7 separate regions of the Homo sapiens genome follow, and regions 2, 3, 4, 5, 6 and 7 are each reported to be linked to region 1. The links are microRNA targets in miRTarBase. Many come from high-throughput screens and were not tested one by one. Region 1 holds a microRNA gene; each other region holds the end of a gene's coding sequence.

Evidence for each region. Region 1 holds the annotated microRNA hsa-miR-1229-3p (CUCUCACCACUGCCCUCCCACAG, at 2,563-2,585, opposite strand). A microRNA usually pairs through its seed, bases 2 to 8, with sites in the 3' UTR of a target mRNA and lowers its output. Matches are read on the target gene's strand: a 7mer-m8 pairs with bases 2 to 8, a 7mer-A1 pairs with bases 2 to 7 and ends in A, and an 8mer does both.
Region 2: miRTarBase lists NXPE3 as a target of hsa-miR-1229-3p. Seed matches in the 3' UTR shown: 7mer-A1 at 1,666-1,672 and 7mer-A1 at 638-644.
Region 3: the mRNA of DCTD is a reported target of hsa-miR-1229-3p. Seed matches in the 3' UTR shown: 7mer-A1 at 2,231-2,237.
Region 4: miRTarBase lists CDC42EP4 as a target of hsa-miR-1229-3p. The part of its 3' UTR that is shown has no 7-base or 8-base seed match.
Region 5: the mRNA of SNAP47 is a reported target of hsa-miR-1229-3p. The part of its 3' UTR that is shown has no 7-base or 8-base seed match.
Region 6: the mRNA of TIA1 is a reported target of hsa-miR-1229-3p. The part of its 3' UTR that is shown has no 7-base or 8-base seed match.
Region 7: miRTarBase lists LRIT1 as a target of hsa-miR-1229-3p. The part of its 3' UTR that is shown has no 7-base or 8-base seed match.

The regions. Positions count from the first base shown.
Region 1 is chr5:179,795,716-179,800,089 of GRCh38, forward strand. MIR1229 (microRNA 1229) reads right to left here and starts at 2,631; the gene lies at 2,563-2,631. It overlaps LTC4S (leukotriene C4 synthase), which reads left to right. Exons shown (of 5, transcript NM_145867.2): 3 at 71-141; 4 at 226-307; 5 at 538-932. The coding sequence ends at 679. It overlaps MGAT4B (alpha-1,3-mannosyl-glycoprotein 4-beta-N-acetylglucosaminyltransferase B), which reads right to left. Exons shown (of 15, transcript NM_014275.5): 8 at 4,239-4,353; 9 at 3,791-3,921; 10 at 3,488-3,595; 11 at 3,213-3,406; 12 at 2,798-2,876; 13 at 2,632-2,719; 14 at 2,450-2,562; 15 at 1,895-2,353. The coding sequence ends at 2,330. RefSeq lists an enhancer at 1-66 and silencers at 1-585, 626-675, 696-855, 700-911.
Region 2 is chr3:101,821,744-101,825,882 of GRCh38, reverse strand. It overlaps NXPE3 (neurexophilin and PC-esterase domain family member 3), which reads right to left. Exons shown (of 8, transcript NM_145037.4): 8 at 1-4,139. The coding sequence ends at 3,929. Among named protein-coding and RNA genes, the nearest start is that of NFKBIZ, 26 kb to the left of the region's middle.
Region 3 is chr4:182,888,218-182,892,591 of GRCh38, forward strand. DCTD (dCMP deaminase) reads right to left here. Exons shown (of 6, transcript NM_001921.3): 6 at 1,874-3,260. The coding sequence ends at 3,182. Among named protein-coding and RNA genes, the nearest start is that of DCTD, 27 kb to the right of the region's middle.
Region 4 is chr17:73,282,124-73,286,497 of GRCh38, forward strand. It overlaps CDC42EP4 (CDC42 effector protein 4), which reads right to left. Exons shown (of 2, transcript NM_012121.5): 2 at 1,501-4,374. The coding sequence ends at 3,307. Among named protein-coding and RNA genes, the nearest start is that of CPSF4L, 22 kb to the left of the region's middle. RefSeq lists enhancers at 2,624-3,180, 3,736-4,291, 4,292-4,374.
Region 5 is chr1:227,779,732-227,784,105 of GRCh38, forward strand. SNAP47 (synaptosome associated protein 47) reads left to right here. Exons shown (of 5, transcript NM_053052.4): 5 at 796-1,495. The coding sequence ends at 942. Among named protein-coding and RNA genes, the nearest start is that of PRSS38, 34 kb to the right of the region's middle.
Region 6 is chr2:70,209,479-70,213,852 of GRCh38, reverse strand. It overlaps TIA1 (TIA1 cytotoxic granule associated RNA binding protein), which reads left to right. Exons shown (of 13, transcript NM_022173.4): 13 at 1,008-4,374. The coding sequence ends at 1,134. Among named protein-coding and RNA genes, the nearest start is that of C2orf42, 21 kb to the right of the region's middle.
Region 7 is chr10:84,228,397-84,232,770 of GRCh38, forward strand. It overlaps LRIT1 (leucine rich repeat, Ig-like and transmembrane domains 1), which reads right to left. Exons shown (of 4, transcript NM_015613.3): 4 at 3,124-4,374. The coding sequence ends at 3,531. Among named protein-coding and RNA genes, the nearest start is that of LRIT2, 5.0 kb to the left of the region's middle.

The sequences.
Region 1 (4,374 bases):
GCGAGCCCCAGGCGGGTCCGGGTCGCAGGACCATCCCGGCCGGCGCGCTCATCCCACCCGCCCACCGCAGGGTGAACTGCAGCGAGTACTTCCCGCTGTTCCTCGCCACGCTCTGGGTCGCCGGCATCTTCTTTCATGAAGGTCGGGGTGTGGGGCAGGGGCGCACGCGCTGGACCCCCGGGACCCGCGCAGGGCGCTCACCAGGCCCGTGCGTACCTCTCGCAGGGGCGGCGGCCCTGTGCGGCCTGGTCTACCTGTTCGCGCGCCTCCGCTACTTCCAGGGCTACGCGCGCTCCGCGCAGCTCAGGTGAGGGCCGGGCGGGGAGCGGGGCGGGGCCGGGGAAAGATCGCGGGCGGGCGGGGCTCCTGGGGAGCGGGACCGAAGCTGGGGGCGGGCGACGGGCCGGAGCCCAGCGCCTTTGGGGATTCGGTGGGCGAGCCCTGGCGGCGGCCAGAGGAAGTCCCCGTGGGGCCAGGGTTGCGGCGGGGAAGAAGCGGGCCTCCTCGCGCCACCTCCCCGCTGACCGCCGCCCGCAGGCTGGCACCGCTGTACGCGAGCGCGCGCGCCCTCTGGCTGCTGGTGGCGCTGGCTGCGCTCGGCCTGCTCGCCCACTTCCTCCCGGCCGCGCTGCGCGCCGCGCTCCTCGGACGGCTCCGGACGCTGCTGCCGTGGGCCTGAGACCAAGGCCCCCGGGCCGACGGAGCCGGGAAAGAAGAGCCGGAGCCTCCAGCTGCCCCGGGGAGGGGCGCTCGCTTCCGCATCCTAGTCTCTATCATTAAAGTTCTAGTGACCGAGACCCGGGCTGCGTTCTCTGGGTCCGCGGGGGTGGCGCACCGCGGGCTACGGAGCCTGGAGGGGCCCAGCCCGAGTCCGGGCAGCCCGGGGCGGGCTTCCTAGTGGCGGCGTGAGAGTGGCTGCGAAGGAACGAGCCCTCCCCCTGGGGCGGGACTGGATCCGGTCTTCACCTCCTACCCCACTCCCTACTCAGCCTCGGGGTCACAAGGCCGCCCAGTCCTGCCGGGGTTCACCCTCCTAGCGCTCAGCGGTCTCCTCACCGGTCCCCCTCCTCAGGGGCCTTCCCTCGACTCTCAGCCGCCGCAGTCCCTCGTCCCCTGGCCTTCACAGCTGACACTAGATAGAGCCTGTGGCTCTCTCCCCAGGTGAGGGCAGGGGTTTTTCTTTTGGTCAGCACTGGATCCCCCTCGTTAACTGTAGGTGTTCAGGGCAGCCCTCCGAGGTCCGCAGAGCTGCGGGCACCATGGGAACGAAGTGAGTCAGTGACAGGCGGTCTCAAGGAAATGTCCAGAAGCCTTGGGGATCCAGGGGAGGCCCACAGAAACAAAGAAGTGACTTTTAGCCAAGTATGCAGGAGAAACGGAGAAAGGAGAGCTTTCCAAGGAGGGGCAACAGTGTGTGCAAAGGCCCTGAGGTGAGCGGGAGACCCTAATGTGCCAGAGGAGTGTCGGGGACCCAGGATGAGGACCAAGCTGAGACACACGGAGGGGAACAAGGAGGCTGGGAAATGCCTTCAGCTTGAGGAGCTAAGGGAAGGCCTCATCGCAGGCCTTGGACATGGGGGAGACATTCGGGGGACCTGCTATAGGCATTGTGGTCCCAGATTCTGAGCTGGTTTCACCAGTGACAGACTTTGCGGCCTGATCCTAGGAAGGGGGGTACGCTGGCGCCGAGGTGGCACTGCAGCTGCACAGCCAGGGGCTGGACCCCGCGCCTGCAGGCCAGGCTGGCTCCTTGACTTAGCAGGGAAAGGTCGCTGCTGATGCTGGCTGGGGAGGCCCAGTGCCAGGCTTAGTTGGCATGTTGGGGCACAGACCAAATGAAGCCAACCGCAGGGGCAGAGGGAGATGCCCAGGGCGCTCACATTTGAGGCACACACTTCATTAACCCTTTATTACAAGTCACGCTCTTATAGAAGTATATGTGGACTTACGTGAAAAAATCAAATGTATCCAAGAATAAAAAACACAGCACATAAAGTAGTATATGCATTCCAGTGTTCGCGCCAGAGACGGCGGGCGCCCAAGTAAAAGCTCTTCTAAAACGGCCTGACTGGGGCAGGCCGGGTGCGAACGGTTCCGGGCCTCAGGCACAGTGTGGGGGCCGCCTGCCTCCTCCGCGGCCCGGCGGGCGGGGGCAGCACCAGCTCCTAGGGCCTCCGGGCCAGCGGCGGACCCCAGGCCGGCCCAAGCCCGACGCCAGGCAGAACCCTTTGGGCGGGGCCGTATCTGGCCCTCCGGGGACGGCAGTGACGACACCCCCAGAAATGTGGGCTTCAGGGCTGGCCACAGGGTACCCTCAGAAGCCCGCAGCTTAGTCGGCCTTTTTCAGGAAGATCTGGAAGAGCCGGACCCAGGGTCAGCAGGGCCTCTGAGCTCCGCCAGGGTCTCCCTGGCTGCTCCCCGTGCCTGGCCTGGCCCTGCCCAGCCTCACCTCGCTCAGAATCACCCACACAGGGGAGTCCGTCTGGATCGAGAGGCGCAGTGCTTCCAGAGGGCCGAAGGCTGGGTCCACCTCTCCCTCTGCCACTCCCTTGTAGAAGGAGCCTGTGGGAGGGCAGTGGTGAGAGGGTGTCCCTGAACCCCAGCCCACGCTCTCCCCCAAACCCTACCCACCGATCTGGAGGTAGCCGTCGGGGCTCCGAGGGTACCGGAGGGTGGCGGTGCGGCCCTCCTGCAGGGCCTCCTTGTCTGACTGAGGGTTCTGGGGGCAGAATCAAGGGCTGAGGCAGGTGGTCACAGGAGGCCCGGCTTCAGTGCACACCACACCCACCGAACTTACGTCGAAGGGCAGCACCTCCACAGACGTGTTGAAGAGCTTGTCCTCCGGGTGCTCGATGTTCCCACTGCGGAAGAAGAACCTGCAGCCAGGCAGGCCTGTGAGCTGCTGCAGGGGCAGCGTTCCAGCACAGCACCCAGGGCCCAGCAGAGAAAGGCCAGGCCTGCGCCAGGAGGGCCCCCCAGGCAGCTGTCAGGCTGTGCAAAGAGACCAGGGCCTTCCTCTGGGAGGATGGTGACAGGAAACATCCCTGAGCTCCTAGGGGCTGCCTGACTTAGTCCTCACAAGGTAGCTACCATTACGAGGCCCACTTCAGATGCGGAAACTGAAGAACGTGAGGATAACTTGCCGGTGAAGCCTACACCCTGGGGGCCACCCAGCCCCGCCCCCATCGCAGACCCATGGTGCTGGCACTGACCGCTCCAGTCTTAGAGGTTGGAAGAAGCGGAAGCGGATGAAGTCCCCCGCGGCAGGGGTGAAGGCCCAGAAGAAGTCCTCGCGCAGGTAGGCTTTCTCCAGGGTGAAGTGCTGGTATGTCTTCAGGCTCGTGCTCACCTCTGCTGGCGGGTTCACATGCTCCTTCCGCAGCGCCTGCTTTCCAAAGTCTTTGTCCTGCAGCGGAGGAGGGACAGCAGTGATGGCGTGGGCCCCGACCTTGATCCCGGCCTAGGGAGAGCGTGCAGTGCAGCCCACCTTCAGTTTCTGGATCTTGCCAGCCAGCGAGGAGTGAGTGCCCACGTGCTGGAAGAGGGACGGTTTGAAGCGGATCCGCAGGTTGGCTTTCTGCCGGTCACAGTGCTTCTGTGGAGGGTGGGCAACACCCCAGGGCTCGGCTTAGCCCTCCTTCCTCAACACGGCCTCTCCTGGGGACTACCAGGGCCCTCCCACAGCTGACAGTGCTCTATGTGAGCAGATGCAAGGACAGGGACACAGTTTGGGGTGGAGGCTGCCTGCCCCTTGGCCCTGCCCCTGCCAGTCCCGCCAGCTCTTGCTCACCGCATCCTTCTCGGGGTTGCAGACTTTCACCCACAGAATATGGTCCAGGAGCCAGTCGATGGGCTTGTCCCGGTAGAACATGAGAATGAACTCTACAATCAGGCTCAGGTCCAGCGACTTGAACATCTTACCTGGTGGGGAGGGGCCTGAGTGGGCAGTGCTGCTCTGCCTACTTCCTTTCTCCCTGCAGCGGCCCCCGAGTCCCACAGCAAACCCAGGGGCAGGCTTCAGGCAGGTGTGGGCATAACGGGGCAGGGAGGCAGACAGGTGATGAGGGCAGACATGTCTGATGCACAGGCAATGAGAACAGGCCAGGTGGGGCTGTAGCACGCACACCAGGCAGGGCCCACCTGGGCAAAGGCTCACAGTGGACACAGTGGGACTGGGAGAGAGGATGGCAGAGGCAGGTGGGACTGAAAGGCACCGTCAGGTAAGGGGAGGGGCACACCAATGAAGCCCAGCTGGGAGAACTCCAGGATCATCCAGTCCTCTGAAGGCTGCTGCAGTGCAAAGTTCTTCATGGTGCTCAGGTAGTTGGGCTTGGCCACGATGTCATCCTCCAGCTGCGAGGTGAGCAGAGAGGG
Region 2 (4,139 bases), not on the chromosome of region 1:
TAGCATCAAATCAATCATCTCAGTTCTGGAATATGAGATTCACTACATTAAATTAATACTTTCATTCCAAAATAGAAATTCATATTTTAAACCACTGAAATTGATATAAACCACTGCTTTAATATTGTAAACCTAAATGTCCAACTATAATGACCAACTTATCTAATAATGAAAACTGCAGTAGCAGAACTATTAAGCAGATCTTTATAATTAACTTATGAAGACTATTTAACATAGAAAAATATTTATATGTAAAAAACACAGACCCAAATTACATATTCTCTATAAGTATATGGTTAAAAAACCTGCAAGAAAATATACCTAAATGCTAATGTTCATTGCATTCAGATGATAGAATTATGGATTTTATCCATAGATTTTTCTTCTAGATTTTATAGTTTTTAAAAATTATGATGCCCCTTATATTTATATTGGGAAATATACATTTAAACAAACTATTATTTGGCTACCATGCTAATATTCACAACCATGTGGCACTAGCCTAAAATAAACTTTTCAGAAGAAACTAAATTATTCTATCTAAATATTCTGGGAAACGTTTAAGTGATATTGGAATCTCTATCAAAATTTCCACACCAGAGTGAAGAAAGACAAATTAGATGTGGGATGAAAGTTGTTCTCACTGATAAGTGAGAGCTAAATGATGAGAACACATGGACACATAAAGGGCAACAACACACACTGGGGTCTATTGGAGGGTGGAGGGTAGGAGGAGGGAGAGGATCAGGAAAAATTACTAATGGGTACTAGGCTTAACACCTGGGTGATGAAATCATCTATACAACAAACCCCCATGACGTAAGTTTACCTATGAAACAAACTGGCACATGTACCCCTGAACTTAAAAGTTGTTAAAAAAAAAATTTTTTTAAGAGAGATGAAAGTGACTCAAGAAGCTGTGTCACCAAATCTTTGAGAGCTATGTCACCAAATCAAAAAATAACAGAAAACCAGACAAGATCATAAGAAATCATTTGCACAATCAAGTGGCATCATTCCAAACCACTGGAGGAGCAATGCCCGCTTTCTTTTTAAAATTCTCCTGGGAAAATTACTCCTCAGCCTCCTTTATAAATCCTTGAGGAAATGTCAAGTTCTTTCACGACAAGAAAAACTCTCAGCTGGGCACAGTGGCTCACACCTGTAATCCCAGCACTTTGGGAAGCTGAGGTGGGCAGATGCTTGAGCTCAGGAGTTTAAGACCAGCCTGGACAACATGGCAAAATGTAGTCTCTACAAAAAGATACAAAAATTAGCTGGGCATGGTGGTACATACCTGTAGTCCCAGCTACTCAGGAGGCTGAGGCAGAAGGATCCCTTGAGCCCAGGAAGTCAAGGCTGCAGTGAGCCATATCATGCCACTGCACTCCAGCCTGGGCAAAAGAGCAAGACCCTGTCTCAAAAACAAATAAATAAATACAAACGCTTCTTTACGAAAGTCTCACAAGTTTAGCTGAAAAGAGATATGGACTCTCACATACCTTATTTCAGATCTAAACATGAGTTCCTCATCTATAAAATGGAGCTAATATCACCAATACTATTGGATCATGAACAGAATTAAACCAGTTATTGGTAAATCCCCCAAAATAATAAACAAGCCATGTTTATTCCCTCATTCTATCTTACCTCTTCTCTTAGTGTTTCTCACAGTGTGGAATACCACCATTGCATCAGAATCACTGAGCACTCGCCACAAAGGTTGGTTTCATAAATCCCAGAGGCATCATGGTCCCTCTTTTTTTTTTTTTTTTTTTTTTAGAGACAGGGTCTTGCCCTGTTGCCCAGACTGGAGTACAGTGGCACAATCAAGGCTCACTGCAACCTCTGCAACCTTCTGCCTCCTGGGCTCAAGCAATCCTCCCACCTCAGCCTCCTAAGTAGCGGGGACTACAGGTGGTGCCACCACACCCAGCTAGTTTTTGTATTTTTTTGTAGAGATGGGGTTTCACCATGGCACCCAGGCTGGTCTTGACCTTCCGGGCTCAAGCAATCCGCCCACCTCAGCCTCCCGAGACTATAATCCCTGCTGGGATTACAGATGTGAGCCAACATCCCTGGCCTTAATTCTTTTATTATTTAACAAAAATTTTTTAGAGATAAGATCTCTTGTCTGTTGCCCAAGTGGGAGTGTAGTGGCGCAATCATAACTCACTGCAGCCTCAAACTACTGGGCTCAATCAATCACCCTGCCTTAGCCTCCCTAGTAGCTGGGACTGTCGGCCCACACCTGGATAATTTTTTATTTTTTGTAGAGATGAGGTCTTACTATGTTGCCCAGGCTGGTCTCAAACTCCTGGCCTCAAGCAATCCTCCTGCCTGGCCTCCCAAAGTGCTGGGATTACAGGCTTGAGCTACCACACCCTGCCATGACTCTTTAATTCTGCATTTTTGTCAGATACTACAAGTGATCCTTAGGTACTGTAAAGCGTAAGGACCATTAAAATTAAACTATTTTAATATATTTTATTACCTCATTAGGCTCAGAAACAATTAAAAATCTTCTTTCCCCCTAAAATACTTTAAAAACTTGAAGGTGTTCCTCAAGGACAGGAAAGTAAGATCTGGGGCCCTCCTATTTTAAATTAAAAACCCAAATTATTTGACCCATTCTTCTAAGGGTATATATTGTTCATACTTCAAGCATCTGTCTTCCTCTCTAAAGCCTCCCTAGTTTCTTCATCTGTCTACTTAGGAGCAACTTAAACTAGACTATAATCTATCACAGCTCAAAAAGAAAAGAGTACTTACTAAATGATCCCAAATTAAACTCGTTTAAAATTAATAAGTCAAATAAAATTAATAATTCCATTCTTCTTAGATAGCCAGTAGGAATAGCAGCTTCTTCCAAGCATGAGAGAATGGGTGTGCCTTTTATGCCCAAATCAAGAAATACCAAAAAACAAACAAACAAACAAACAAAAAACTGTCATGAATTTTAGTATCTTATTAATTTCTAATTAGATTTTAACTTCTAATTTTGGTAAGTAGTTCAAAATAACAACAACAACAACAAAAAAAAAAACACCTGAAACTAGTGGAAAAAACTTCCACAGCTTTATAATATCGTAGCATTCTTTACACAAAAGTCAATTCCTAAACCCTCAAATTTCAGAACATAAAAATAAATTTCCATTTACAGATTTCCCCCTTCCAGTTCCAAAAGTAGTTATTCTAGAGTAAGTATTCAACACATAAAATTTAGCTGAATCAAATAAAAAACAATCACCAAATGCAAATATCAATTCCAAAGCACAGATTTTATATATACTGCTTTCATATTTCCCTTTTGCTTCTTTTCTAGATAAAAGCAGGAAATTGTAAATATTCACTAAAAAACTCGAACCAAGCACATTGGCCTTTTCAAGTAATTCAGAAAAGGTAGATCATCAAGAGAAACTCCTGAGACACAGCAGTCTTCAGTGCATTCACAAGAGCCTCTGACTATAAGCTTTCTCTAGTTAACCGCCAGAAGATGGATTACTTGTGCTATGCATGCAGATGCACTCAATTTCCTTTACCAGATAAGCTACAAACACTCTACTACCAACCAAACTTGTCCCTTCCATCAAAACATTTTTCATACTCTTTAGCAAAGTAGTCACCCCTCCTAGGAGAAGCTAATTCAAATACACTCATTAGCATCTTTGGTTACAAGAGCAATATAGTGTGTAGATGCAGTTAAGAGTTCTACCATGGCTAAGTCAACATTGGATAAAATCCTATAGGTAGATATAAATGTAACCTGCATTTTCTAAGCTCCTTATAAGTCATCATATTAAGTCCAGATCTTTTTGAAATTTTATACTTATTAAGGGCAGTCATCTCTCACTGGGGCCACTTTCTGTAACTCAGGTCAATTGAGAAGGTCATTGAATATGATTCCTCCAGTCCCTTCCAAGACAGGCTAGGTTTCCAAGGGGCACACAAAGGACAAGAACATGTCCAGCTGGTTCTTCACAATAACTTCATCTGGATGCAGCTTGTGCGGTAGATAATGGGCCAGGGTCATCTCCCAGGCATCGACGAGATATACTCCAACCCCTGAGAACATCCTCCGAAGGATGGTGTCCAGCTGAAAGTTGTACCAGTCGCTGTTGAAAAGGCTCACCTCAGGT
Region 3 (4,374 bases), not on the chromosome of region 1:
TGGTAGGTACTCAGTAACTATTTGAGATTCATATACCCTCACGATGAAATGGCTTTAGATTCTTCCAACAGTTCCGAAATAAAAGTCGAGCTAGCTAAAGGTATCTCCAGAACAATTCTGGGGCACCCTGCTCTAAATGTGACTCCTGGGCCCAGGGTTATTTTGCCGGCACCTCTGCAGCCAGTAATCCATAACTCTAGTCATCACGGTTCCCTGACAAGAGAGCTTGCAAAGCACCCCCACCTTGAGTTCTGGTCCTTCCCTGGAGCTTTAGACAGGCTTCCTGGCTAATGATTTGTAGAAACTACCATTTTTAGAGTGGCTTTACTTTAACAACAACAACAAAAGTGAACTATAAATATTAAAACTTCTTATCAGCCTCGCCAATGAGAAAACTCCCTCCCTGCATTCCTCAGGCCCTTTTGCAACAACCTAAATATTTTTAATCCTCAGGTAGATACAGACATTGGAAGATCAAAAATTACACCAGGGCCACAGGAACTTCAGCTCACCGGGCTTGCAAGCCTACATTTGTATTCATGAGCTCAGCTTGTATGCTTGTTCTCTTATTTTGCTTCATTTTTAATTTAGGAAAAGATGGCTAATATATTAGATCACTTTCACTGCTGGGTCTTGTCAGGCTTCAGAAGTCTTTAAGGACAGACTGCTAAAAGAGTAAAAGGGAAGAAAGCAGAAAATGTGTCAGGGAAATGGAGTTCCTATCATTTCACTCACAAATTCTGCCTTTTAAATGTAGTCCTTCTACCAACGGTTCAGTGAAAGATGGTTTCCTTATTGTCATTTATTAGCCATGACAGGCAGCAACATTGGCTCAGATACAGTCTCCCTTCACCACAATTATCTAGTAATGCCTGCGAGGCAAAAGACTGCACAAAACTCCCTCCTTCTGGAAAGCTTCTCCCCAAGGCACCAGTTCAAAGCAAACCTCTATTAACTGGAACATGAACATCTGCAGAATTCTCTGGATAGGACAATTCTACTATTCTTATAGTGATCCTAGAAACGAAGACATAATCACTCACACTCCAGTCACCAGGAGACCAGGGTCGGTTCATAGGTGGAAGCATCACAACCCCCCAGCGACAGCATCTGCCCCCAAATAAACACCCACAACTGACCTCAGTACCAGGACTCCCCTTTTAGCAAGGACCCTTCCTGTCAACCTCCCCTCAAAGACAGAAAAAGAAAAAAGTCAATTTTTTTTCACTGAAACTGAATGTAACAACCAGACAAGATATAAGATAGTATCAAAATTACATAAATTAGATGCCCTACTGGCTTATCAGCCCCTAGACATATTTATCAATGTGATGTGATGAAAATGACACACTCCATCCTAACAGGACTCACAACTCTTGTGACTTGCGGCAATAGAGAAATCTCTAATTTTCTACCTTTAAGTCTACTGATTCTTTTTTCCACATACCTTTTGTTTTATGTATTTTGGAGCAAACACAGGGCGAGGAGTTTGGAGGAGAAAAGAGAAGGAAATTTAGGAGAGAAGAGAAGAGAGACTTGGAAAGAGGATAAGGTGAGAAGTCAGCAAAGGGCAGAACTCAGGACTGAAGCCTTCCGGGAGGACAGAGGCCTGGGCCCTACCAGATAGATGGCCACACCTGGGACCAGGGGCAGGGTACACAGGAGAGAGCGTAGGGCTAGCGGCTGCCTTCGCATTTTACATAAATCTGATCCATAAAGCAGCCCCAGACATCAACCCTGGGGAACGCACACAGCTTGGGCATCTCAAATTATTCTTTGAGCATTAAAACATATGTAATATGCTTCGGAGACAATACAGAAAGGACAGGAGCAGAAAATTAAGCATATAATTATAATAACATAAAAATGTACATGCTTTGGTAGGGTAGATTTTAATAAGATTTTAATAATATTGGTAAGGAGCCAAATTACAGAATACCCTAGAATGTGGAATACAAAATCTCAGAGACAAAATAAAAACTCATGAAAATATAAGAGCACTTTAAAAAGGTAATAATCTTTAGGATAAAGAAAGCCTTTTCTCAACACAGGTACTGAGCATGTTTAATAAAAATTAAATGAGATTAAAGAGAAGGGGCACAGCCACACGCTCCCCGCCCCGCGGTGATTAGGAAGGTGATGCTTGTGTAGGTGAAAGCATGGAGCCAGGGCACAGAAGAGCTCCGAACACCAACAGTGCTGCAGTAAGCTGTCTCCACGTGGGTGGAATTTCTCACAATCCACTCACGGGATAGGAATTAATTTTCTCTCCAGTTGCAGAGGGGCCTTGTACATGAACTGCGTTGGCATGCGGAGGAGGGGCAACACATCCATGTTGGGGACCCCTCCCATCCACAGCCCCAGCTGCCACCACGGCAGGGCATGGGCTTTGGGGGCAACAAGGAGAGACAGGCTGTCTCCTCTAGGAACAACTCATTATTCAGCTAAACGAAATGGAAGAGCTCCATGTGACCAACAAACCCAAATTGAGCCAAAACAACAGGCGTCCCCACCCCCCAGAGGGATAATGTGCCACCACCCTGTGTGCAGTGGGAGAGCAGGAATGGAGGAAATATTCCTGGTTCAGTTACACTCCTCGTCTGTCAGGACAGATGTGCCACCCTATCTCGGATTCCGGGAGGGTGGCTGGGGGTTTCCCTCAACTCTGCAGCAAACACTTCAATGCTACTGTCATTTGAGGCCTAATTTTCTTCCAAGGGCACTATATGCCATGCTTCACTTGGGCCAGATGTTCAGATCAGTGTGTCTGCTCGTCCCCATTAAGAACACAACCACAATTATTTATTTGTCCTTCCAGCACATGTAGCAGTGAAGAGAGGCTGCCGGATCGCAGCAGATGACAGACAGCTGATGCTCCTCTGAAGAGCCACCAGCATCCCAGCCAGCCAGGACACAAGAAGGGGAGGCACTCTCGTTCTAGCCCTGTGCACCAGGCCACCACAGGCTCCCCTATTTTAAACCCTAAAGCAATAGTTCAAACACATGTAGATTCCATGTGACAAGAGAGACAGTAAGGAAGATTTGAGGCTTTATATTCTTTAGATGCCTACTTTTGCCATACTGGCTAGTAAGAAGTTATGTGTAACTTCAAGATGAAAGGCATTAGCAACCTCTTAGAAGACGATAATCCCAATCTTCTGGAGATTGAATGAGATGTAACTCACTGAAGCTTTTGACTCGGTCTGCTGTTAATTGAATCAAAGTCAATGACAATCTTGCTGCACTTCGGTATGAATTTCCTAAAAATAAAAACAAAATACAATTATTATCTGGTGAGTAGTGAAAGCAATTTGTTTACTTTGGCTTAACTCATATTTTCTGTGCAGAGAAAAATATGTCCTGGGATTCACTTGCTATTTTCTCTCTATAGGAGCCAATTATAGTGCACCATACCAAGAGAAACACAGAGCAGAAAAGACTAAGACAAAAAAAGATGCATGGGGTGGTGTGGTTTGTATGTTTTCAGCTCTCTGAGTTCACGAATTATTGGGGAGTCAAAGGATTTCTAACAAGTCAGCTGCACAACATGATATCCGATTACTAGTTTTCCCATCAGATTTATCTTATTTTCTAGAAAAATTTCTGCAGCCAACTTGGAGTCTCTCTAATGCAAAAAAATAGTAAATTTTCTTTTGCCGCTTATATATAGCAAAAAACGACTACCTTTAGTGAGGAGTAATTTTTCAAATTACATTCTAAAAATGCAAACATAAACCAACTTTTTTTTTTTTTTTTTTGCTCATTAACTTTTCACTTGTTCCTCATTTCTTCTACAACAATTAAAAAGAAGACATTTGGGAACAAAACAAATTCTTTTAAGAATCACTGAACAAGAGAGTATACAAATAATTTGAATTTAAAGTCTCAGAAGGCACCACGGTTGAGTTCATGAGATACACTGAGCTGTATCCCTAATGACCAGCACAAGGGGCCAGGGCACGTCACCTATGACCATGGTCCCACTGCTGCTGAACGCCAATACCATGAAGCGCTGGAAAACTTTACAGTCCCAAAGGAATTTTCTGCCATGAATCAAAGGTAGTTGAACTTACTTGCAAGTAAAATATAGCTCACAACCATTTCTTAGCAAAGATAATCATAAAAATCTGTAAGACTTCAAATCTCAATGCAAAATGTTGCTGTAAAAAGAATCCCCAGGTGGCTCACACCTGTAATCCCAGCACTTTGGGAGGCTGAGGCAGGCAGCTCATGAGGTCATCCTGGCCAACATGGTGAAACCCCGTCTCTACTGAAAGTACAAAAAAATTAGCTGGGTGTGGCAGGGGAGGCTGAGGCAGGAGAACCGCTTGAACCTGAGAAGCGGAGGTTGCAGTGAGCCAGGATCGCACCACT
Region 4 (4,374 bases), not on the chromosome of region 1:
CTGAGCTAGACTGTAGCCCCTAGGGACCCGTCTCCCAATGGGCCCCAGCTCTCCTCCCTCTCTCTTCTTCCCTTGGGGCAGCCAGAAGTCCCCGCTCATAACTCCCACACGAATGAGCCTGTCTAGGGACAGAGGGAGGGACCTGAGTGACATTTTAATTATGCCTCTAATTGCTTTCCAGGGAGATGAGTGGGGAACTCACATTTCTCTGTGGGTGCTCAGGGGAGAGTGCAGGGTTTCCACCAGGAACTCAGCCACATTGAGATCCCCAAGATTTCCCCAGATTTCCTGAGAGCAAGCGGGGGCTTCAACAAGCAGTGAGCCAGCCCTACGCAGACCAGGGCTCCCTTCTGAAGCTGTCCAGAAAGAGGGGAACATGATTCAAGGGAAGGAGGTGGTAGGGCAGGGGCAGGGCAGTGGGTTCAGGGGCCACTAGACCCTCACCCCCTGACTTTATATCCCGAGGTTTTGATGTGCCCAGGAGTGGTGGGGTGAGAAGGGCAGGAGTTTTGAATGAATTCTGGGCATTAGAGAAGGCGGCCTCGAGGCTTATCTGATCATCTTTCTCCATCTGGAAAATGGGGATGTGGAGCTTCTATCTCCCTGAGAAGTGAGGTTGAACTGAGGACCTGCCACTTGTAAGCTGATTTTCCAGGCTTAACGGTAAAAGGGGAAAGAGGAGGTGGTAGCCCCGCTCCCAGCATCATGCAGAAACTGCCTTCAGGGCCAGCCACTTTCTGGTGGTGACAGTTCCGTGCACCAGGACACCAGGGGGCTGGGGAGAACACAGTCACTCTCATCCTAATCACAACTGTATAAAAAGCCCATGTCGACCGGCACGGTGGCTCACACCTGTAATCCCAGCATTTTGGGAAGCCAAGGTGGGCGGATCACTTGAGGTCAGGAGTTGGAGACCAACCTGGCCAACATGGTGAAACCCAGTATCTACTAAAAATACAAAAATTAGCTGGGTGTAGTGGCGCACGCCTGTAATCCTAGCTAGTTGGGAGGCTGAGGCAGGAGAATCGCTTGCACCTAGGAAGCGGAGGTTGCAGTGAGCTGAGATCACACCCCTGCACTCCAACCTGGGCGACAGAGTGAGACTCCATCTCAAAAAAAACAAAACAACAACAACAAAAAAAAAAAACAAAAAAAAACAAAAAACCAACCCCCTCCCCCACAAAAAGCCCATGTCACTGTTTCTGTGCCTCAACCCTCTAAGAGTGGCAGGATACCCATTTTACAGAGCAGGAGAGGGAGGCACAGAACAGCTAAGCGACCAAGTGCCAAGGGCTTCCAAGAGATGGCAGTTAGGGACACCTGAGTCCCCAGACTCTGAAGGGGCCTGCCCAGGCAGACAGCATCGCAGGAAGGGCGGGTCCTCACGGACAGAGAGACAGAAGCCACCTCAGGCCCCCCTGGACAGCTCTAGGACCTGGGTCCAGACCCCACCCCCATCCTGAAATAGCCCTCCCAAAAAGCAGAGACAGACACCAGGCGTGCTTTAGGGCTTTTTTTTTAATGTTTCCTCACTGTTTTGACAATATCATGAAAAAAATCAGTTTAGAATCTGGAATTGGCCTGGACGGGATTCGAGGGCAGCTGGCGGGGGCTGCATAGCCCCTGAGGTTCCTCCCCCACCATGGGACCTAAGCTATTGGAAACAGGAGCACCAACAGGGCACCGAACCTGGAACTAAGTTAGTGTCTAGAGTCAGGCAAGAGAGGAGAGTCAGGCAAGAGAGGAGGGGCCGGGCCACAGTCGCCATGGGGACGCCCCTGGCTGTGGTTGGTTCTGTGTCTCCCCCTCCCCTCACTGGCTACATGGAGACAGGGAGGTGGGTCAGGCTGTTCCCAGGACAGAAAAATAACCGGCAGTCAACCTCAGGGCTCATACCCGAGCTTCTGCTCAATCCCCTCGGGGACAGTTACAGGACTCAGAGAGAAACGTGAATTTCAGAAAAACAAATCATTTTTCACATAAGTGTTCCAAATATTGCGTGGGGCATATTAATGCTAGAAAATTATCTTTTGTTTACCTGAAATTTGCGTTTAACTCAGCACTCTGTTTTGGTTTTGCTAAATCTGGCCAACCCTGGCCTCAAAAGTCGGTGGGGGGAGGCCTGAGAAAAGAAAGGGAAGTAGTCAGTACTGAGGGTATTGAGGGGAGGGAGGGAATAACTCAGCCAAAAAGAAAAAAAAGGCTTTCCCCCCATAGGAATGATATATTATTTAAAAAAAAAATCGTTCTCCAAAAATATTCTGCACTGGCCTTCCTCAGTTGTTAATAGCTATGGGAGGTGCGTAGGGAAAACACACACACCAGACACCCACCCCATGTCATTCTAAATAAAGTTGGGAAGCACTAAAGTTGAGCTGGTGTCTTTGCCACGGATGTCCCCAGACTCCAGTCCGCTAATCGCCACCAGACTCCAGTCCGCTAATCGCCACTGTGAATTTTGAAGAGGAGGCTTAGTATAAAGGTTTTCTAAAAGGATTGATTCTCATTCTGAGGCAGACCTATTAACACCATCCTGATATTGCTCTATAAGGATTTAAACACAATAATAAAGAACAAACAAGCCCCTAGGGACTGAGCGAGTGCCCTAGCCCTGTTCCTAGTGTCATCCTGGAAGGGTCCCTTCTTGCAATTCACGAAGCCTGGGGGGCTTTCCTTCCATTCTCCATCCTGTTCTCTTCCCCTGGAAAGGGCTGCGTTTAGTGCACATGCTCGCAGCTGGCCCCCCGTCCAGCTCAGCTCCAAGGGGCTCCAGATTTCCAGGGCAGGAGCTGGGGTGGGGCAGGGAGGGGCTGAGAGGCAAGACCGTCTCCCTCCTGCTGCAGCTGCTTCCCCAGCAGCCACTGCTGGGCACAGCAGAAACGCCAGCAGAGAAAATGGGAGCCGAGAGTCCTTAGCCCTGGAGCTGAGGCTGCCTCTGGGCTGACCCGCTGGCTGTACGTGGCCAGAACTGGGGTTGGCATCTGGCATCCATTTGAGGCCAGGGTGGAGGAAAGGGAGGCCAACAGAGGAAAACCTATTCCTGCTGTGACAACACAGCCCTTGTCCCACGCAGCCTAAGTGCAGGGAGCATGATGAAGTCAGGCAGCCAGTCGGCACCCATGCCAGCCCCCTACGTCCTCCGAAGACCCGAGGGCCAGGCCAGTGTCCCTCATCTACAAGGTCCAGGGTCCATGGTCTGAATCAAGGGTCCTGGCTGCCCCTGCGCCGTAGGGTCAAAGGTCATAGTGGGGTGGGGGCAGGGAGAAGATGCAGCCAAGAGCTCCCGGTGGCCACCCACTGTCCGCCTCACACACGGATTTCATCCTCCTCCTCCTCATCCATGAAGGAGAACTCCTTGTCTGGCTGTCTTGAGACAGCAGCCCGGGCCCTGTCCGGCCCCCGGAAGGCAGGGCTGCGCTCCTCCAGGATGCCTGAGGTGCAGCTGGAGAGGGAGCTGCTGTCCCGTGTGGTGTGGCTGCCCATGCTGCGGGCTGAGCCGGGGCTGGGGGCCGCTGCTGCCCACCCCTCATCCTCCAGAGCATGGGAGGGGAGGGAGGGCAAGTCTGGGCCAGCCTTGCCTTCCTGCCTTGCCAGGGGAGGGGCCGCCACGGCGTACGGGGGAGCCTGGGTGATGGTGCCAGCGGCGCCCTCATCGCCATGGTAACCACCCTCCCCCTCCTCGGGGTCCCACTCCTCCTTGTCCATGATGCTGAGGACGTCACCCAGCATGGAGGGCCCCAGGTCGATGTGGAAGGACATGATGGACTCCGCATGCTTCAGCCCGTACGTGGCCTTGGGCACGACAGGCAGATCTGTCAGATCCCCAAAGGCCTGCTCATCGAGGAGGGGGTCAGGGGAATGTGGACCCGCGGCCCCATTCCGACGGGGCACTGCCTCCTCCGTGCCCGCCTCCTCATCGCCGCCCTCCCCGTCATTGGCCTTCTTCACGGGGCTGGATGACAGGCTCTTGGGCAGCTTACTGGTGCCCTTCTCCGCGGCCTCCTTCTCATTGAGCTGGGGCAGGGACATGGCATTCTTGACAAACAGGGCCGAGTCCCGCAGGGAGCCCAGCATGTCACGCTGCTCCCGCTCCCCCCTGGTCACCGACTGTGACCGCTTGCTGCCCCGGAACTTCCTGGACAGGAGACTGCGTTTGGAAGATGAAGAAGAGGGCTGTTCGTCCAAGGACTCGCCGTCGGGCTCGCCAGCCTTGCTATTGAGGAAGGAGGTGTCCCCAAAGGCGTCTCCGGCCCGGCCAACGTGCATGGTGTGGCGGAAGTCGCCCAGCGGGGCGCTGATCATCTCGGCCGTGAGGTCCGCTCGGGAACGGCGCTTGGAGTGCACCGAGCTGGACACCAGTTGCTTGAGGATTGG
Region 5 (4,374 bases), not on the chromosome of region 1:
TTCCTCATAGAACACAGCTCATTAAGCCACAGACACAGCACCAGCTCAGCCCTTAGCTCATCGCCCCTGCTGCAACCAGGGGACACATCTCTGTGCTAGCATTCCTGGGGCGGCCCACCCCATCCAGCCTTCCCTATCCACACCTGCCTGGCCCTGCGTGCCTCCACCTTCTGCATCTGCTGGGCCGGGGACCATCTCCCACACCCCCACGGTGCTGGCTGCCCTCCACCGTATGGAGAGTTTCATTCTGTCATTTGCATTGTGCATGAAACATCTCACACTTAGAGACAAGAGAAGGGGTTTGTGTTTCTTTTTAATCCTGCTTTCCCACTCCAGTCTGCAGTTAGGGACCCACATGCAGACAGGTCTCACCCAGCATAGTGGCTGGGTGAGAGCTGGGACTCAAATCCGAGCTGCGTGCCCAGGTCCCCAGCTGCCCCACTGTGGGCAGGAATTCCACACCCACATGCAACGCTCCCACAAGGTCAGCCAAACAGAGCACTCCGCAGCCTGGAGATGGCAGGCCAGGGTGTGGCCACTGCACCAGGCAGGAGGTGCGGGCAGGCAGCTGGCAGGAGGTGGGGCAGGCACCTCATCTCATCAGGCCTGTACTGGCAGAGGCAGAGCCATGACCTGACCCTGGTGCTGGGCTGCCGGCTCCCTCCTGCTGGCTCGCAGATGGCATCACCCAGGTGGTAACGCAAAGGCTCTTGGGTGTGTGAGAGGGGGAGATGTTGTCTGTGCTAGAGTTTGCAGAGATGGCAGCCTCTGCTGTGATCTTGTGCTTCTCCCCAGATCCTGAGGAGGATGAAGGGGCTGGCCCTGGAGGCCGAGAGTGAGCTGGAGAGACAAGACGAAGCCCTGGATGGCGTTGCAGCAGCTGTGGACAGGGCAACCTTGACCATCGACAAGCACAACAGGCGGATGAAGAGGCTGACCTAGGGGCAGAACGTCCCTGCATTCCTGTCTCACCCTGCACATCCCGCTGAGATGGAGGGCTGGGCGGCAGTGCCAGGGCTGCAGAGGCCTGTGGCCCTCCGGAGTGGTCTTCCTCTGGATGGGGCTGCTACTGTGGGGCTGCTTCTGCACCAGGGGCCTCCCCAGGTGTGCACCATGCCTGCCTCCCACTTGGCTGTCCCTGCTGCTGGGCAGGACCCGGCCACATGTTCTGCGGATGCTGCAGAAGTGTGGACCATGGCGGGACCCCAAGGACACTTGGCACAGGCCTGGAAGAGGCCGCCCTCGTCTTGTCTCGGCTCCCTTTCATGGACAGACTGGCCTTCTTAGCTGTACTATAAATTTGTGAGTGAAGTTAGAGCCCAGCTCACTTAGCCAGCTCACTTTGAGGGCATCCTATAAACACCCAACTGTTCTTTTATCGTCTCGGTTTTAGCCAAAAGTGAAATTAGCATGACTGCATCTTTCAAACAAAAATATTGATTTCTGCTTTTAGGGCCCCGTTTCCATCCAGAAATAAAGGGAAATGCTGGCTTCAGAGTGGTTTTTGAAGATGGGTGCCAGTGTTTCCACCTGGTGCCTTGTGTCTGGGTCAGTGGCCACTCCCTCAGAGGCCCTGGGGTAGGTGAGCATGGCCTCTGGCGGGACTGCGCGTCACATTGCGGGTGGTGCCCCTTTGCCATGCTGCTTTCAGATGCCCCGTGCAGGGCTGCAAGGAAGGGTGCGGGCACATGGGAGGCGAGTCCCAGGATGGTGCCACGGCCCAGCCTGTGGGGCCTCCACGCTGGTGCACCCAATGCCCAGTGGTGCTGCCTTCCCAGGGCTGCTCAGTGAGCCTCACACACAGGGGCCCTCGCAGCTTTGCAGCCAGAAGCCCCACGTTGAGATATCCTGGGCGTGCTCCCTCCAAAGGTTCTGGGGAGGACCCTGCACGGCCGCCTGCCACAGGTCCAGGGCCCAACCTAATCCAGGATGGCCTGGTCTTGATGTCACTCACTGAGAATGTCTGCTAAGACCCCAGTTCCACAGGAGGTCCTGCTCTGAGGCTCCAGCTGGACTAGGGGCTGCAATGCCAGTCGCCAGAGCCAGTGCAGGTGCCTGGCAGGAAAACTGGGAAGCAGCCTCTCTAGAAAGCCACAGCCCAGGGAGCTCTGATTTTTTTTTTTTTTTTTTTTTTTTGAGAGGGAGTTTCACTCTTGTTGCCCAGGCTGGAGTGCAATGGCATGATCTCAGCTCACCACAACCTCCGCCTCCCAGGTTCAAGCGATTCTCCTGCCTCAGCCTCCCGAGTAGCTGGGATTACAGGCATGCGCCACCACACCTGGCTAACTTTGTATTTTTAGTAGAGATGGGGTTTCTCCATGTTGGTCAGCCTGGTCTCAACCTCTCGACCTCAAGTGATCCGCCCGCCTCAGCCTCCCACAGTGCTGAGATTACAGGCGTGAGCCACTGCACCCAGCACTCTGATGTTATTTTTTGTTTGATCTGGGAAATTGTTTTCTGCTTTTTCTTATTTGGTTTATACTTAGCAGCCTGCAGAAGGAGACCTTGCCCTGTCCCCTCTGGGGTCCTTCCACTAAGGCCACAGGTGAGTGAGTGCTCCCAGCCTGTCTGGACACCCCAAGGAGGCCAGTGTTGGCCCTCAAGCCTAGCCCAAGGCATGCGGACACCATGGCCCCCCCTCCTGTCAGTGCTGGGAGCCGGCAGCAAGGGCTCACCATGCCTGCAGCCACCGTGCAGACCCCCATCAAGCCTGGAAGAGGCTGCACCCTGTCCTCAGGACCTCACAGTGTGAGTGGGGTCTCCTCTGTCCCTGACCCCTCGCTGTTCTCAGGACTTCACAGTGTGGGTGGGGTCTCCCCTGTCCCTGACCTCTCACTGTCAGCAAGTCCTTGCAATATCAGGTGAGGCCTTTTGTGTCACTTGACCATTCCTTGTCCACTGGACCTCAAAACTAACATGATATACAGTAGTAAGAATGTAGAAACTTTCCCACTAAAATCACGACCAAGGCCCATACATCCGCTCTCACCATCTCCTTTCAGCACTTTAAGCTCTAACAGATGGAACAAGGCAAGAAAAGGAAGTTAAAGTTTAATGATACTGAAAGAAGAAACAAACTCTCTTTGTTCACAAATGACATTTTCCAGGTAGAAAGTGTAAAAAGGGATCAAGAAAATCCCCTAGAATAATGAACAACTATTCAAGATTTCAAAATATACAAAAGTTAATCACTTTCCTATATACCAACAATGGATGAGTGGATTTGAAGTTAAAAACAAAGTACTTCTACTTTAGCACCCCCAAACAATAAAATACTTAGGTACAAGTCTAAAAAAAGTGTACTCTTTCTATATATATGAGAAAAACTACAAAACCCTGATGAACAAAAGAAGAACCAAATAAATGGAGAAAAATTCCATGTTTATGGATAAGAAGACTCAGTATTTTCAACATGTTTGTTCCTTCCAGCTTGATCTATAGATTCAATGCAATTTCAATCAAAATCCCTGCAAGTTATTTTGTGGATATTAACAGATGATCCTAAAGTTTTTATGGAGAGGCAAAAGACCCAGAATAATCAATTCAATACTGAAGGAGAGGAGCAGAGTTGGAGGACTGACGCTACCTGACTAGAAGACTTACTACAAAGCTGCAGTTACCAAACCAGTGTGTTATTGGTAAAAGGAGAGACAAATAATAGAACAGATTAGGGGACCCAGAAATAGACCCATATAAATATAGTCAACTCATCTTCTGAGAAGATTCAAAGGCACCACAATGCAGAAAATGGTCCCACAATGGTGCTGGGACAACTAGATGTCCGCATGTGCAAAAGAAATCAAACAGACCCTACACCCTAAACAGAAATTAATGAAAAGGAGCTGGGCGCGGTGGCTCATGCCTGTAATCCCAGCACTTTGGGAAGCCAAGGCAGGTGGATCACTTGAGGTCAGGAGTTCGAGACCAGCCTGGCCAACATGGTGAAACCCTGTCTCTACTAAAAATACAAAATTAGCTGGGCATGATGGCGAGCACCTGTGATCCCAGCTACTCGGGAGGCTGAGGCAGGAGAATTGCTTGAACCTGGGAGGCGGAGGTGAGACAAGATCACGCCACTGCACTCCAGCCTGGGTGACAGGGTGAGATTCTGTCTCAAAAAAAAAAAAAAAATTATTCAAAGGGATCATAGACCTAAAAGTAAAATGCAAACTAGAAATGTCCTGGAATATATCATAGGAGAAAATGTAGGTTACCTTAGGTACGATGATAGCTTATAAATTTTTTTCACTCATTTAATTGTTAATATCTGTGGGTACATAATAGGTATTTATGGGGCACATGAGATGTTTTGATACAGACATGCAATGTCTGTATTTTTAGTAGAGACAGGGTTTCTATGCTTTTTTACAAACA
Region 6 (4,374 bases), not on the chromosome of region 1:
TGGCGAAACCCCACCTCTGCTAAAAATACAAAAATTAGCCAGGTGTAGTGGTGCACACCAGTAGTTCCAGCTATTTGGGAGGCCGAGGCAGGAGAATCACTTGAACCTGGGAGGCGGAGGTTGCAGTGAGCTGAGACTACACCACTGCACTCCAGCCTGGGCAGCAGAGCAAGACTCTGTCTCAAAAAAAAAAAAGGATTTTGTGGTTGGGCATGGTGGCTCATGCCTATAATCCTAGCACTTTGGAAGGCCAAGGCAGGCGGATCACTTGAGTCCAGGAGTTTAAGATCAGCCTGGGCAACATGGCGAAATCTCATCTCTACAAAAGGTACAAAAAAAATTAGCCAGGCATGGTGGTTGCGTGCCTATAATCCCAGATGTTCGGGAGACTGAGGTAGGAGAATCGCTTGAGCCTGGGGAGACGTAGGTTGCAGTGAGCTGAGATCATACCACTGTACTCCAGCCTGGGTGACACAATGAAAACCTGTCTTAAAAAAAAAAAAAAAAGAAAAGAAAAGAAAATCTTGTAATGTTATGAATTTTTATGAGCTTTCATATGCTAATAATTGTTTTGATTTCTTCTTTGAGTAGTATAATGTTCCTTTTTCGTTGTAGGGAACCTACCTGACTCTTTCAGGTAGTGGTTTCCTCAGCAAATATGTTCAACCAAGGCATAGAGATGAGATGGATAGCTTTCTTTTCCAAGAATGGGGTTAGGTTTTTCTATATTCAAAGGAGATGAATGTTGATAAGTTCAGGGTATTTTCTTAGCTTTAATTTCTAACAAAATTAAACTGTCCAAATTAAACATACAGGGATGCTTGTTTTTAAGAGAAAAAAACTTTAGTAAAAGATTTCATTTTCCCTAGCATAAATTATTCTATTTGGGATTAAGAAAAAGTATGTTTCCCATTTCCCATATTTGTTCTTGTTGTTTGTTCTTGCCAATACTTTATTTTAATCAGTGGATTTCCTCTCCCCTCTGCTTCTTTCACATTCTCCACCAGTCAGACACAGTCTTCTGCACCATGGATGGGACCAAATTATGGAGTGCAACCGCCTCAAGGGCAAAATGGCAGCATGTTGCCCAATCAGCCTTCTGGGTATCGAGTGGCAGGGTATGAAACCCAGTGAATAAGGACTCCAGAATCTAAAGCCAGTGGCTTGAGGCTACAGGGAGTGTAGTAAAGCCGTTGTTTACTTAAAGATTTATCAAATCAGTCAGTGCAAATGTCAGATACAATGTATTTATTTAAAAGATTCATTTTTAATCATGAAATTACTTATCATCCACATTGTTTTAAAAAGAAACAAGATGCTGGATGTCTGCCAATTTTTGCCTTCATTACCTTTTTTGATAAAGTTTCTCAGATCCTTGTTTCAAACACAAATGCAGGGATTGCTGCCACTTTTTAACTATTAAGAGGCAGAAAATTGCACAATATTGAACTTTTTTCCACTGAAGTAGTGTGCAGTTCTAGTTTGCATTCCTGATATGATTTAAAACATGTAATATAAAGATGTTAAAAAAAAAAACCAAAACTGTGCAGAGTCTAGAAGTTGTTTGTCATCTTCAGCTTGTGCACAATTCTGTTTTAGGTTAAAAAAAGGCATTGTTTGAGCTGTCCCATCTCCACTGTTATCCCTTTGGGGTTTTTTAATATAAATTATTAGTTTACATCATTTTTGTATCTACATCTTTTTTCACAAATTTGTCTTGCCTTATTAAAGTTCTGTAAAATATACTTAAATGGAAAAAATGATGTTCATTTAGATTGAAAACTTTTCTCAGATGGATTGATAATTGCATTCATCTTGTGTTTTATATGAGAAGGTGCCTCAAGAATTTCCTGTTGGATTTGTTTAAAAGGATTTTTATCTTTCGTGATAAACTTTGCTGTGTACCAGGAACTATAAAAACAAAAACTTGTTACTAAAGAAAATATCTGAAATGTGATAAGTTCTTATGCCATGTTAATTTCATGTGTCAACTTCAACATTTACATGTATTATTTCATTATGTAAAATGTTTTAGCAATTTAATATTTTGCACAGTTAGCAAACTTTGTATGTCATTTCCTTCAAGGCATCATGCAGAGTTGACATGAGATTTATAAGGTTTTAAGTTGTTTGCATGTGAAAATCAAATACATACTTTGGTAGTCTTTGAATACAAAGTCATCTGCTCTTGTTTTTCAAGAATTTTGAGACACAAAGTTGTATGTAAAGGAATATATTAATTTGCCGTTTTCTAGGTAGATTTGCTCAAAAAGAGTGAATCAACTTAATATGTACAAATGATAGCTGTGAAACTGTAGAATATCTTTGTGTCAGGCTTGGAGTTCATTGTGACCTCCAAATTTTGCCTGAAGGACCAGCTGGGCAAAGCATCTTTTAAATGTTCAGAGGCCAAAAGATAAACAAAAAAAAAACCTTAAAATCCTACCTCTTTAAACAGCCTTCAGATAAGAGAATCCTCAGTGCAATCATTATTTTGATTCGTTTGGTACCTGTTTTCCTGGAGTTCCCGATTTTATTATTTTGGGGTGGCTCCAAGCATTAAGAGGTTTAATCTTTGATGGCATTGTTCTAGTTTTGAAATTTCTAGTATATTTCAGAGTCTCTTAGAAGACTTGTGTGGGAAGTTTCACTTTGTTTTCAGTGAAGATCACAAACCTCCTTCTTCCTTTACTCAAGAGGAAAGGTCCCAGTATACATATTTGAATGGTTGATGGTTTTCAAGACCTTCAGGGAGCTCCCTGCATTTTACCTAGAAACAGAAAAGGCCCGCAAAATCTTAAGTTTCCTGGCCTGCATTTCCCGGGTAGGGGCAAATGACTCCAAGCTGGTCTCTAAGCCAATACCCTTATAAACCAGAGCCCAGGAAAGACAGCTCGAGTGTATAATTCTCTGGAGCTCAATTCTATGCAGTTGTGCTGATATTTCATTAAGTCACTGTGTATTTTTAAGTGTTGATACATTAAAAGTCGCTTTATGGAAGATGAGTAAATTTTTTAAATACTTGGAAATTTTATTTCCTTGTTAACTTCTACAGATCAGGGCATGCAACCAAAAGCAGCTTAAATGAAATATTTTAAAATAAAATATCAGGAAGCTATTTTTAGATTTCTTCTGGCTTATGTTTCTACTTTAGGACCCTCATTGTTCTCTTATTAAAAAAAATTATTTCCTGTGCATCTCATGGACTGCAGGGTAAATTATTTGGGCATAAATAATTTAAATAGTTTTCTTTCATTTTGACTATCTCCAGTAATAACAGTTTTTATTATCCAGCATATTGGCTTATTGCACAAATCTTAAAATGTACATTGACTACTTTCTGAGAAGAAAGTGGTATCAGTACTCATGATGAAAAGGTTACTACTGAACAAATTCACATTTCAGGAACACCTCTATCTTTGGTTTAAATCTTACTCTTAGTTTTTCCGTCTAAAAATCATACTGGTATTAGTATCAGGTAAGGAAATTAAAGTTTTTAAAATGGTTTCATTCTCTGCAATATGCAAAATTTAGATTTTACTTTCTGGTACTGTAAAGAACCTGAAGTGATTTACACTTAATGGGTGATTAATCCAGTATTCTTTACCCTGAATGTTTGGATATTAAAGTTCCTTTATGTTTTCTATAACCTGTGGGATCTTCTTGCAGTGATTATTGTGTGTGAGATTTTTTTTCTTTTTGGTCTATCCATATTGTTATATTCACTCAGGTATTTTTTTTTTAATCTTATTCCAGAATCAGTGGTTTATATTGGGTTACTGTTTAACACCAAATGGAATTGGCATTCTGCAGATTTAATTAATTATGAAACCAGGGTCTCATTTTCCTTGCTGATACTTGTTGAAAATGAGATTCACATTCTAGTCTTTATTTTCCTCCTGTTTTGTCCCTGTGCTTGTACATCTTCCTTTTATTTGTGTGTTATAGTTCTATTCCATTTGAGAAGGCAGTTGGTAAGAACTAGATTGCATGTACAAAGACAGGTTTACTAAGTGCTGTACAGTGGTCCTGAGGTTACAGTTGAATTAGAAAAACGAAATGTACTTACAGGAAATAAGAAAGCAAACCTTTCAAATGAGAGTGATGATTTCTTTAAAAAAAATCAGTTTTTTTCTCTCAAATAATGTTCTTTATTTCACGAAATCGTCAATCTTAAGCATGAGCAGGGATAAACAACTCCTAGAAGGAACTCAATTCATTCTTCCTGGATTTTCTCTGTTGTTAAATCACAAAAATGATAGTCCCCAATCGTTTCTTTATAGGAGGTTATTACATTTCATTACAGTCACTGCATTTTGACTGTTGTGTTTAGAATTTGAATGTACATCCAAAATGATGAGTTTCAATTTAAGA
Region 7 (4,374 bases), not on the chromosome of region 1:
AATGCCCTTGTGAATAAATATGCTCAGGTACTTGTATGTTGATTTTTGCCTTTGTTAGATTATATGATAATTAAGACAAAAATTTCCAGCTCTTGTCCTCTAGACAAACTGCTCACTGAATCCCTCGATTGATAGCCTAGGTTTGATAGCCCACATCCACTTTCCAGAGCACAATTTCTGTATTTGCCTTTTTGTACCCAGCAACTTCAATGGGCAAGTGACCTTGGACATATTCTCTGCTTAATCATGAGGAATAAAACCATGTTGCAGTCATCAAAAGACATCATGAAGATGCTATGATTCCAACCAACCTACAAACCAGGCTTCCAAGGCCAGCTATGCTGCAGCCTCGCCATGGCCCAAATTGGTCTTCAGCATTGGAAGGCCAGAAATTCTTTTGCCAGGATACTCAGAGGGCATTCAATTTTCAGGGACTAACTCATACTCATCAGACTCACATACTAAAAGACTAAGGTAAGCCAGACATCATTTTATTTTTTACAATAAGAATGTGTTTCTTCCCATGACTTGAATATTCATGAGCGTAATCCAGGATGATTCTTCTCTACAAGGGCAAACCAGGGAAGACAGGATACACAAAGGAAGGTTGACAGATGAGTTTTGGGAGGCTTATCATCTTGGAGGCTGTATTAGTCCATTTTCACACTGCTGGTAAACACATACCCAAGACTGGGTAATTTATAAAGAAAAAGAGGTTTAGTGGACTCACAGTTCCACATGGCTGGGCAGACCTCACAATCATGGCAGAAGGCAAGGAGGAGCGAAGGCATGTCTTACATGACATCAGGCAAAAGGATTTGTGCAGGGGTACTTCCATTTATAAAACCATCAAATCTCATGCGACTTATTCATTACCACGAGAACAGTATGGGGGAAACTGCCCCCGTGATTCAATGATCTCCACCTGGCCCCACCCTTGATTCATGGGGGTTATTACAATTCAAGGTGAGATTTGGGTGGGGACACAGTCAAACCATATCAGAGGCCTTTCCATCCAGACCATGAAAATAGGTCCCAATAAACCATTGGATCATTGGCAAGATTGAATTCTCTCTCTCTCTTTCTGTCTCTGTTAACATCAGATAAATACTACAGATTTCTTGCTTTTAAGTTCCTGATTTTTCTTCAAACAAGACTCAATAAAACTGGCTAAATGTTACTTGTCTTTAGGTCAATAACTGTCCCATCATGATTGGTTCAGACCATCATTTAAAGGCAACATCCTGATCACTTCAACAGATGACTGCTTTCATCTACTGCATTTACATTTGTCCTAATTTTGGGGGTGTCTATCACTCTCATTTATCAAAGAGTCAGAATTGAGTCTTGGGTCTCCAAAACTCACCAGAAATATCTTTCTAAATTTTCATAAGGGGTAAACAAACTACAATCTCAGGGTCAAACCCAGCCTGTCACCTGTTTTTGTAAAAAGTGTCTTATTGGAAGACATCCATACCCACTAATTTACATATTGTCTATGGCTGCTTTTGCATCCCATCAGCAGAGTTAAGTAGTAGCAACAGAGCCTAAAATATTTACTATTTGCCTTTCTTTACAGGAAAAAAGTTTGCTGGCTCCCAATGTACACAGTGTCTTTGTCATCTTACAACAAAACAGCCTCTCTTACCAATGTCTATGGTCCACAAGTTATAGTCAGGTGCACCCTCCAGGTGGTGGCAGAAGATATCCAAGAATGGAAATTCCATGCTCATGTGCATGGGTGCTCTCATGGTTCTGATCCCAGGTTTCAGTGATTTTTAAAAAGTTGATTTCTATAGTGAACCTTCTGTAGACCACATTGCAGGGATGGATACTGAATAAAGACCATCAGCCTGATGAGAAAGTTGTCAAAGAACTAGATTCTGAAAGAGAATTCATCACTTCCTTGTATAAATCATTCACCTCTTTGGTCTTCTTCTGTAAAATCAAACAGCCCAGCCTCCATAGTGGGTTGTCATGAATATCAAATGTGAGAAAACTGAGTGAAATATGTTGTAAGGTCTTTTGTAAATGTGAGGGGAGTAAGAAGCACTGCATCACACTGGCTTATGTCTAATAAATCACATGACATAATACTTACAAATACTTGGAGTCTCTTGCATAATACTAGCAAAACAATTTTCTTGGATCACTTGCTGTCCCAAAATTTCTTCAGTTGTTACCCAAAGGACTTGGCACAGGTACCCTGGATGCTCCTCATGCCAGAGATCGGCTTTATAAATAAGGAACAAATTGAGCCTTCTGCTGGGAACATTCACTTTCCCCAGTGCACAGAGACAACATCTCAGTGGTTTCCTAGCTCCAAGAAAAAGCAAACAGCAATTTTCCTTTGAAGTAACTTGATGAGCAACCAGGAAGGCTCCGAGACACCCTCAAGAACCCAGGTAGGTTTTGGTAAGAATCACAAAGGCTGCTGCATGGGACAGAGGTGAATGTGCCAGACAGCACAGAGTGTAATGAGGTCTCTTGGATCCCTCCAGCCTGACATTCTGAAAGCAAATGAGCAATGTTCTCTTGGGCATTGTCTCAAACTCTAGCATTTATCGAAAAATCAAATGATTGTCTCTAGGCAGAATAGCACCCAGAGAATAAATATTAGAATTCACTGAGGGCACAGTGGGTTATGAGTGTAGTGTGTGTGTTAGTGAGGATGGGTAACTACCAATATGGCTAATGCATAGAGAGATGGTGTGTGTGAGTGCCTATGAATTAGCATAAATGTAATCAAGGTGCAGTATAGGAGGATGGTAAGGACTTTTAACCGTGGATCCCAACTGTGTGGTCCAAATCTCAGAGCCATCTAAATTTGCCTAGCTGTGTAATCCTGGGCAATGCAGATTAAATCACTGTTCAGCACATATTCCTTGCTCTACCATCACCTCCAGGGGAGAAGTGTCCTTACTTGCCCCATCAAACTTGGGTTTGGCCATGAGACTTGCTTTGGCAGATAGAATATGGACAGAAGTGGCAGTATACCAGTTCTGAACTAAGAACATAACAGGCATTGCATGAACAATCATTCCTCTATTATCATTCAACCTCACCACGAGAGAAACCTGCCCCAGGTACCCACTGCTACTCTCCAGCCCAGGCTCCAAATGAAACACACAGAGCAGAGCCACCCTAATCAACCCACAGGCCTGTGAGTGTGAAAATAAGTGTTCACTGCTATACATCACCAAGATTTTGCTTTCATTTGTTATACAGCAAAAGCTGACTGATACAGGCAAGTTTCTTAACCCCCCACCCCAGGGAAATGGAGAGAATAGTGATGCCTGCTGCAAATGATTGTTACAAGAATTTAGCACTTAGAACACTTTCTAGTCTGTAGTAAGTGCTTAACAAGTGTTAGCGGTTGTTGCAGTAGCAGCTGCTGCTGCTGTTGTTGTGTGTAAGTATCTGAGTAAGCAGGTACCCGAGCAGGTAAGAGTGGGTGATCGTGTACTCAGGTGTCAGAGCTAAAGAAGGAGCGTGGGCAGGCAGGTGTGTGAGTTGCGGAGGCATATCCCTCAGCAGAAGTACTCATTGATTCTCCTGCCCCCTTTGACTCCAAAGGCCTGAAAGTCCACACTGGAACGAGCTGAGAGAAGCCTGTCAGCCTCGCTGACACTGTGCCGGGACAGCTCCTCCAAGCCGTCCTCGCTGTAGCCCAGTCTCTCTAGGTTGACGTAGGTAACTGTGGCCTCAGTGGAGTCCTTGTTGAAGCACTTTCGGCAGCGCTTCTGAAGAGCACTGCAGCAGACAAGCAGCGTGAGAGGCAGGGCAATGACGATGGCCACACTGATCACCACCACATTGATAAGCTGCTGAGTGTTCTCAGCATCCACCACTTCATTGGTGGAGAAAATAACACACTGCTCCTTCCGGGGCACCAGGCCCTGCACACAGACACACGCCACATACTTGGTCTTGGGCAACAGCCCAGTGATGGTCACTCTGGTCTTCCCAGGCTGCACAATCACCCGCCGCATGCTGTGCTGCCCAAAGACCGCGTAGAGGACACTGAAGGCAGTTGTGTTCTTAGCCTGGGGTGCCTTCCACACCAAGGACACGCTGTGGTAAGTGTCCCCCACCACCTTCACAGACCTCACCATTCGTGCCTCTGAGGGTCCTGCCCGCCCATCAGAGAGCTCTCCCAGGGCATCCATCTGGAAGTGCTCAAGGGTCAGCTCCTCCTTTGTGCTGGGCACAGAGGGTCCAGTGGCCAGGACAGCGGGTTTGGGAATCTGGGGGACATGCCTGGCCACCAGCTTGTTGTTGTAAGCAGCAGCTTCCCCTCCGCCACCTGTCCTTGCCCATAGTGCTCCTGGGCTCCCACTGTGTTCTGTGGAAGTCGGTGGCTCAGTGACAATC